Homo sapiens: one gene and its partner. The protein of the gene in region 1 binds, or shares a complex with, the protein of each later gene. Each region holds a gene or a part of one and is shown on either strand. Other genes may lie near its edges. A codon is read from its position in the direction of its gene.

Region 1 (3,815 bases):
TTTGTTTGTTTGTTTTTGTTTTTAAGTGGAAAACTCAGTACAATTACTTAAACCACCACCAGGAAAATCCCTCCATTCTCTATAACAAAGTAAGAATGTTTCTCTTTGTGGCAAGTGGGTTAAATATGAATACTATCCTGGTAAATCTCATATTATAAAGCTACACATTTTATTTTTGATTAATTCTTTTATATAAAATATAAGGAAAGCTCATACCCTGTGTGCTACAATTCAGCTATCTGTGATACATGCTTTTTCCTTCCATTAGTTTTGCCTTTTTAAGAACAGTTCCCATACTTGAATGTATTCCAGTGGAATTATGAGCATTTTCCCATTTTACTCTTTAAATCCTTTTGCTTTTAACTATCCAGTGTTGACATTTGTTAAAAAAAAAAAAAAATCTGAGGTGTTTTGCTATTCAGTTTTTTCCACTGGCATTTTGCAATGGTTTATCACTGAAATTATATCAGACTACTTAAAAACAATGCCAGGACTTCATGAGTACCTCTATCAGGAACATGTGGGATAATAGGAAAATAGATTAAAAAAAAATTTATCTATATAGAGTGTATTTTTTCTGACTGTTGGGATAAAATGGTGGGTAGCCAAATCTCCCCAGGATTTGACGTAATTCTTCAAGAATAAAACTGATGCCAGAAAAATCTCCACCATGGCCTGGCACAGTTTGGGAAGGTTGATGTTGCTGAAATGTAAAATAAACCACAGAACCACATAAGGGCTCAAATAGTGCAATGAGAGGATTTACTGGTGATTTTCTTAAAATGAAACAATGGAAAAGACGGGTGTTAGATTTATAATACGTCTCACTATTTTCTCTGTCTTATAGGGATTTTTTAAGCGAACAGTCCAAAATAATAAAAGGTACACATGTATAGAAAACCAGAACTGCCAAATTGACAAAACACAGAGAAAGCGTTGTCCTTACTGTCGTTTTCAAAAATGTCTAAGTGTTGGAATGAAGCTAGAAGGTAAGATTCTTCTAAAGACTACTGCCTATTAAAACTCTCCAAGGACATGAACTGTAAAACAACATTGTACTTATAGCATGGTAACATTATTTTCCCAGCATTTTAACACTACCGACAATACTGTAAGATCTTTCTATGTTTCATCTGCAGAATAGTCTGAGTCTCATTTAATCATGGTGAAATCTACTAGGAAAAAAATTTAAAATATTAGTTGTCTTTCCCCTGCCCACCCCCTTTTTTTTAGTCTGGGGAGCAGATGCATTAGACACAAAAAAGGGAAAAAGATCAGGTTATGAAAATAAGACTAAAGCAATCCAACTGAAAACAAGAATAATTTGTAAAACTATTAAAAGTAAAATATTCTTTGAGTTTTTAAATCAAGATACCCTTGGAAAAGTTTGATTTCAATTCTTTTTAAAAGAGGTGTGCTTGTCACAAGTGTTAACTACTAATTTCATGATTCTTAAGAGTTAAAGCCTTTAATGGTGAAAAGGAGTTTCTCATGTAGGATATTATCTTTGATAGTGTAGAAATGTATTTTTTTAAAAGATAATGACTGAGGCTGCAAAATAAAAAATTGAGAATCAGGAAACATGAAAAATAACGAACTATTAAATCATTAGCAAAGGTCTGAAAAGAACAAGAAAGTGGCTCCTGAAAAGCCACACTTGAACTTTGTTGAAAGAGCAGACCCTATACTACAATGTACAGATTGGCAGGCAGTAAAGTTAATATGTGACTGCTGTAAATAATTTGTAGTTCATGGACTACTATGGTATGTTGCTGCTTTCTAGCCTCTGACCTGCTTGCTTTCCATGGATTAAATATACTGCAAATAAAGCAATAACAGGGATACATATCACCGATGGTGCTAGATACAAGAGTGCATTTTATTTGATCAATGAGGCACAGGCTATTTTTATTTGGAACTTTTCTGTTATATGGAACTCATACTTGATAGAAATACTAAAAAAAAAAATCATATAAATCTGCTGAATAGCTAACACGCTTCTTCCGAACAGAGGTAGCCACTTTGGTTATTATGAGGACTGTTAATGTCAGTATCATTTTTAAGAGATCATGAAAGGAAATAATTGATGCTTATTAATTTTCTTATTACCAATCACTATTATTTCCCAAATAGCAAAATATTGTGGTAGATGCTTACTACATACAGTAAGAGACTCAGAAGATAAGTAAATGTTGTGATTTTGCATGATGTCATTTAATTCCTTTTCAACAAAAATAATAAGGCTGCATTTCTTTACCTTAAATAATTAAACTTTCTTTTTTTTAAGTTAAGCTTTCACAATTGTAAATCACTTGTGGTACATGCTCATGCTTCCTTAGGAGTGATATGAAACAACTGAATATTCAATAAATTATCATCCAGATGAAAAACTCTTTATAATCTTGTGCAATATTCTGTATACTTAGAATTTACAATAAATTTTTAATGTGATACTAATCCAAGATAAAAAGCTCAAAAACTTAACCTCCAGCAAGTTCAATATGTCACAAGCTATCAGAGGTCTCTAGTTTCTGTCTAATTGCCATTGGCCACTATGGACTTAGAGGGAACTGCTAACTAACTTATTAGTCATGGCCGCAGACTCCACACACCACTGTCGCAGAAGACTCTCTTGACAGCTTCTGAAATGAATTTGTTTTAATTATGTCCAATTCTACTTAAATTAAAAGCAGTAACTGGTGGTCATCTGATGTGGGCTCATCAAGTCCAGGTGAACATGATTTTCCAAGAACATGTCCCCACCCCTTTTGTTATTGCAACAAGGTGGCCAAAATGGCTTTCAGGGAGGAAGGTATCTTGTGGGAAAGTATTCACAATTTAATCCAAAATTGGGTAACTCAGTTCCACACCCCTGCAAAAGAAAACCCCAAAGCAGTTTGGGTTTCCATAAGGAACTGGCATAATAAAAGCATATACTCTTAGTAGAACGACTGATACTCTTTCTTAGCAATGTGAAATATTTCTTTTCTTTTTTTTGAGACAGGGGTTTCACTCTTGTTGCCCAGGCTGGAGTGCAGTGGTGTGATCTTGGCTCACTGCAACCTCCACTTCCCGGGTTCAAGCGATTCTCCTGTCTCAGCCTCCTGAATAGCTGGGATTACAGGCACCCACCACTACGCCTGGCTAATTTTTTGTATCTTTAGTAGAGATGGGGTTTCATCATGTTGGCCAGGCTGGTCTTGAACTCCTGACCTCAGGTGATCCACCCGCCTTGGCCTCCCAAAGTGCAGGGATTACAGGTGTGAGCCACCGCACCACGCCTATGTGAAATATTTCTATGTCTAACAAAAATTATGAACTCTCCTCCATCCACAAAAGGGTTAATATGTCCCTATGTGGCCAAAGTATTTTTTTGATGACGACACACACTTGGAGGAAGGAATTCATAAATAAAGAGGACATGGTTTTTTGGGAAATCTTTGTGGGCTATTGTAACGAAAACAACCACACACATACCACTTCTTGTCGATTTACATTTCTAAATATCTGAAGAATGCTAATAATTTGCACCTTATTTATACCTTTCCTTCCTTCCCCCCACCCCACCCCCAACAGCTGTAAGGGCCGACCGAATGCGTGGAGGAAGGAATAAGTTTGGGCCAATGTACAAGAGAGACAGGGCCCTGAAGCAACAGAAAAAAGCCCTCATCCGAGCCAATGGACTTAAGCTAGAAGCCATGTCTCAGGTGATCCAAGCTATGCCCTCTGACCTGACCATTTCCTCTGCAATTCAAAACATCCACTCTGCCTCCAAAGGCCTACCTCTGAACCATGCTGCCTTGCCTCCTACAGAC
Region 2 (4,506 bases), about 170 Mb from region 1:
AATGGACCACTCTCTTTTGTCATCTGCAGGAATGGGGGAAGTGAATGATCTCAAACTACAGAAATGGCAGTGAACTTGTCTGTTTCAATTCGGGAGTGGGCTGCTTCCTGATTGGCTGTGATTGGGCTTTCACTGTGGTAAGAGGGCGCCTGAAGTGGGTAGGAGCCAGGGGAGCGGTTAGTGAAGGGTTTGGGAATGGGAGAGCAACCTCCTTCCCCTGAGGATAAAGACAATGAGGTGATGGGATTGTGAACTGATACTGTTCCCTGGAAAATTAGCTCCAGCAACCCTGTGGATTTTTTCCCTTGGGCTACCTCTGATAGCAGCAGGGTGGGCCCTGGAGGTGAGACAGTCCCTTCCATATGCACAAATGACAGTATCAGGCTCCAAGTGTTTCATACCTTTTATTACAAAAATCAATAACTTAATTCAGTTCTGTATAAAGTCGATAGGACTTCTGGTCCAATAAGCAGCCTAAGCTTTCATTCTCATCCCAAGAAGGGACAGGAGTCTTGGCCCAGAGGCTGTGGGGACCACCAAAAGCCTCCCAGGCAGCTGGAACACTGTGTCCAAACCAAGGAAGTCCAATGTGGGGTGTGGCTGAGTGAAGAGCTGTTCCTAAGGAGCCAAGTGCTGTCTATACAGGCTTGCCCCCTCCAGGAGCATTGGGTCACCTCTGGGGATGGCCAGGCTGAATCAGCACTGCCAGCCTCTGCCCACCTGATCTCTGCCTGGGCTGGAACAGGTCACCTGAGCAAAAGCATGTCCCCAAGAAGGCCAGCGATGTCAACATCTCCAATGATAGGGCGAAAGAAGAGGTCCCCAAGCAGGCTGGTCGGAATGGACTTGAGGGTGGAGGCCGTGAGGAGGACACGGGTCAGGCGGCCTTGGGCTGCTGGGCACCAGGGTTCCAGGACTTCACACAGCACCCAGTGAGCCTCCTGCTGCAGGTGCCCAATGTGGGAGGCGGCTTGGAGGCCTGGCACATCTGTGGGCAGAGAGGGAGAAGAGGGCTGGTGAGCACCCTACTCCCAGCCACCAAAGGACAAGACTGGCCCAAGATCTGGGCCATCAGAGACACCCCTCTGCCTCCTTTGCTCGGCCTTTGAGGTCCCACTACTACCTCCTCCTTTAGAGGAGGTAATTTATTTATCAATTTTCAATGTATTCATCCATCCATTTATGAAGAGGCAGTGTGGAGTAATGGTTAAGAATTAGGCTTCCTGGGTATGAATCCCAGCACTGTCACTTATTAGCTGGGTGACCTTGGGCAAGTCACTTAATCTCTGGGCTTCAGTTTCTTTATCTGTAAAACGGGAATAATAATATTAATAGGACCTGTCTCCTAGGCTTTTATGAGATTTAAATGAACTAGTATATGTAAAACCCTTAGAATAGGGCCTAACATATGGTAAGTGTGATATGAGTATTTGCTACTATTATTACAATTAATTACTACGATTTATGCGTGCCACAAGGGACTCCTGGGGAACTCTCATCTCAGATGCTCTCCAGATTACAAACAGCACTGTCTCCATCTGCCGCTCTCCTGGCCGAATTCCATAAAGACTCCTTTCCTGTCCTCCCTACGCCCCTTTCAGTCATCTCTTCTATGTGATCTTTCTGAACCCACAGAGGAGTTTTAGCTCTAGAGCTTCACCATGCAGCCTTCCTTTGAGGATGTGACTGAGACACAGCTGTGTCTGCCCACCCCACCTCCCCACAGCCTTCTGTAAAGGTCAGAGCAAATTTCTCAGGCAGAGTGGCAAGGGCCAGTCTCTGGAGTGAATAGACCTGAGTTGCCATCCTGGTCTGTCCCTACCTGGCTGTGTTACCTTTAGCTAGTCACTTAGCTTCTCTGTGCCTCTTCTGTGAGATGGCTATTTGATGAAAATGAGGACTGGCCAAGCACGGTGGCTCACGCCTGTAATCCCAGCACTTTGGGAGGCCAAGGTGGGTGGATCACCTGAGGGGTTAGGAGTTCAAGACCAGCTTGATCAACATGGTGAAAGCCCATCTCTACTAAAAAGTACAAAAATTAGCCGGGAGTGGTGGCGGCCATCTGTAATCCCAGCTACTCGGGAGGCTGAGGCAGAGAAAATTGCTTGAACCCAGGAGGCAGAGGTTGCAGTGAGCCAAGATCGCACCACTGCACTCCAGACTGGGTGACAGAGTGAGACTCTGTCTCAGAAAAATAAAAAGAAAATGAGGACCCAATGAGATAACAGATATCAAACCCTTAGAAGCTACCTTCCCTGGCTGGCCCCTGCTTCAGCCTTGCCCCCCACCCAGGAGTGTCTGGGAGCTCACCGGGGTTGAAGAGGATGGTCCCTTTCAGGCAGGCATATTCCTTGGGGCTAAGCTCCAGGCTCCAGAAGGACTCCAGACAGCATTGAAGCCACTGCACCGCAGCCAGGGAGGGCTGGGGTCTGTCTGGCAGTTGGCCACTGCCTCCACTGCTGCTGGGCTCCTCCAGCAGAATCTTCTTGAGTATGCTGGGCACCGGGGCCTCAGCCACCTCAAAGGTCACAGCATCTTGGGCCAACCCAAGCAGGAAGAGGGGGCCCCAGCAACCCTGCAGCAGCCGCCGCTGGTCCTGGGGAGGCAGCTGCCAGAAGGATGGCAGGTTCCTGAGGAAGGCCACTGTCTTGGCCAGAACATCCAAGGCCTCCCGGCAGGTGCGATGAGGTGCACATAGCTGGACGGGCCGGTGCTGCCTACATAGGCAGCGGCTACGGGGTCGGGGGACAGCCTTGAGGCTGGAGCTCAGAAGTGCGTAGAGAATGGCGGGGCGGCTTGCAGCTCCCTGGCATGGGCAGGCCCCTGGTTGGCTGGTGCTCATGGTTAGGGATCTGCTCTCACTTCCAGCTCTCTGGCTCTGTGTTCTGCGCTGTGGGTGCTATTTATATTCCCAGTGAGTGGAACGGGGGGAATGGCCCAACAACCTTGACTCCAGAAGTCATGTTCATTGAAAAAAACACACAGACATTGCCCCTGGCAGGAATGGTGGGGAAGTGGTGGGGGAGGGGGCATTGGGAACCCCACGTGGCACTGATATCACCTCAGTCAATGAAGTGGCCGGTGCAGGGCACAGGGCCACCTGCCGCTCACTCAGCTGCCCCTTATCAGATGACTCAAGTGGATAAACAAGGTCATTAACTCAGGCTGTACCAGGGCACCAAGGCCCCAGGTGCACAATCAGCAGGTGTCCCCATTGGTGCCCGCTCTTGTGTGCACAAAAGACTAGGGCTTTTGCTAAGCCAGGAAGCCAGCCCCAGAGCTGGGTGGGCCTTGAATGCAAGGCCCAACCTGGAAGTGCCTTATCACTAGCTTGTTTGCCTAACCTTGGGGCCCTGCTTCTGTTGTCAGCCAGAAGCAGGCTACAGGGAAGGGAGCCAGGACCCTGGGGGCTGGGAGGACTTTGCCCACTGTCCAATCTAGGAGGCCTCCTCCTCTGATTCCAGTTCTGGGCCCCCTGCAGGAATAAGGTCCTTCAGAATCCTTATCCCCAGCCTGATTCCTACCACTCCTGAAAGGCCAGGTCTGCTGAGAAGAACTCACAGAATTATAATAAAAGATAGTTGCCAGCCGGGCACGGTGGCTCATGCCTGTAATCCCAGCACTTTGGGAGGCTGAGGAAGGGGGATCATTTGAGGTCAGGAGTTCAAGACCAGCCTGGCCAACATGGCAAAATCCCGTCTCTACTAAAAATACAAAAATTAGCCGGGCATGGTGGCATGTGCCTGTAGTCCCAGCTACTCTAGAGGCTAAGGCAAAAGAATCACTCGAAACTGGGAGGCAGAGGTTACAGTGAGCTGAGATCATGCCACTGCTCTCCAGCCTGGGCAACAGAGCAAGATCCTGTCTCAAAAAAATATATATGTATATGTATATGTATATGTATATGTATATGTATATTTATATGTATATGTGTATATATATATACACATACATACATACATATATATATATATATATGTATATATATGGTTGCCATTCTCTAAGCACTTATTATGTGTCAGGCACTTCCCACTCTAATATTGGCAGCCTCTTCCTAAGGCTAGATTCTTACTTTATGAGACTAAAAAAGCTAAAGTGACTTGCCCAAGGTCATCCCACCAGGAAGACAAAGCCCAGATCTTGCCTGACTCCAAAGTCCTTGTTTGTTTCCCTGGACCCACTGGCCCAATTGCACAGCCAGAGCCTGAGATTCTCAGAGCTTGTGGCTAGCTGCCCCCACCTTGCTGCTGCCTGCTTTGCAGACGTTGCCCACTTGTGATCTGGGCAGAAGTGTTGCTCTGCTGCCACGTGGCTCCTCTGTCCCGGGCATCTTTCTCAGATGGTGGAGCACAGGGGATGAGAGAAGGTGGAGAGGCCCTTGGTTGTGTCATGTTCCTGGACCTTGGCCAGTCCAGTGTGGCAAGCCTTCTGCTGCATGCTGTTGGGCAGCCTGGTGCCCTGGATGGGGAGAGAGAGGCTCTGGCATCACTAGCCCTGGCATCTGCT

The links.
Region 2: the proteins of NR5A2 (region 1) and NR0B2 are in contact, whole or in part, in a crystal structure (PDB 1YUC), measured with the Homo sapiens proteins. Residues at the interface, in NP_995582.1 of Homo sapiens: Phe354, Val357, Arg361, Phe366, Val371, Asp372, Gln374, Met375, Leu378, Gln379, Asn529, Asn530, Leu531, Glu534, Met535; in NP_068804.1 of Homo sapiens: Arg17 (codon at 2,794), Pro18 (codon at 2,791), Ala19 (codon at 2,788), Ile20 (codon at 2,785), Leu21 (codon at 2,782), Tyr22 (codon at 2,779), Leu24 (codon at 2,773), Leu25 (codon at 2,770), Ser26 (codon at 2,767), Ser27 (codon at 2,764), Ser28 (codon at 2,761).

Annotation. Positions count from the first base shown.
Region 1 is NC_000001.11:200,044,596-200,048,410, forward strand, and holds part of NR5A2 (nuclear receptor subfamily 5 group A member 2), read left to right. Parts: intron 1-847; coding exon 848-989; intron 990-3,576; coding exon 3,577-3,815. UniProt on the Homo sapiens protein: Orphan nuclear receptor that binds DNA as a monomer to the 5'-TCAAGGCCA-3' sequence and controls expression of target genes: regulates key biological processes, such as early embryonic development, cholesterol and bile acid synthesis pathways, as well as liver and pancreas morphogenesis.
Region 2 is NC_000001.11:26,911,099-26,915,604, forward strand, and holds NR0B2 (nuclear receptor subfamily 0 group B member 2), read right to left. Parts: upstream 2,878-4,506; 5' UTR 2,843-2,877; coding exon 2,311-2,842; intron 1,307-2,310; coding exon of another isoform or gene 1,215-1,306; exon of another isoform or gene 989-1,214; coding exon 747-988; 3' UTR 391-746; downstream 1-390. Other genes in the region: nuclear migration protein nudC, read left to right, coding at 45-137. UniProt on the Homo sapiens protein: Transcriptional regulator that acts as a negative regulator of receptor-dependent signaling pathways. Specifically inhibits transactivation of the nuclear receptor with which it interacts.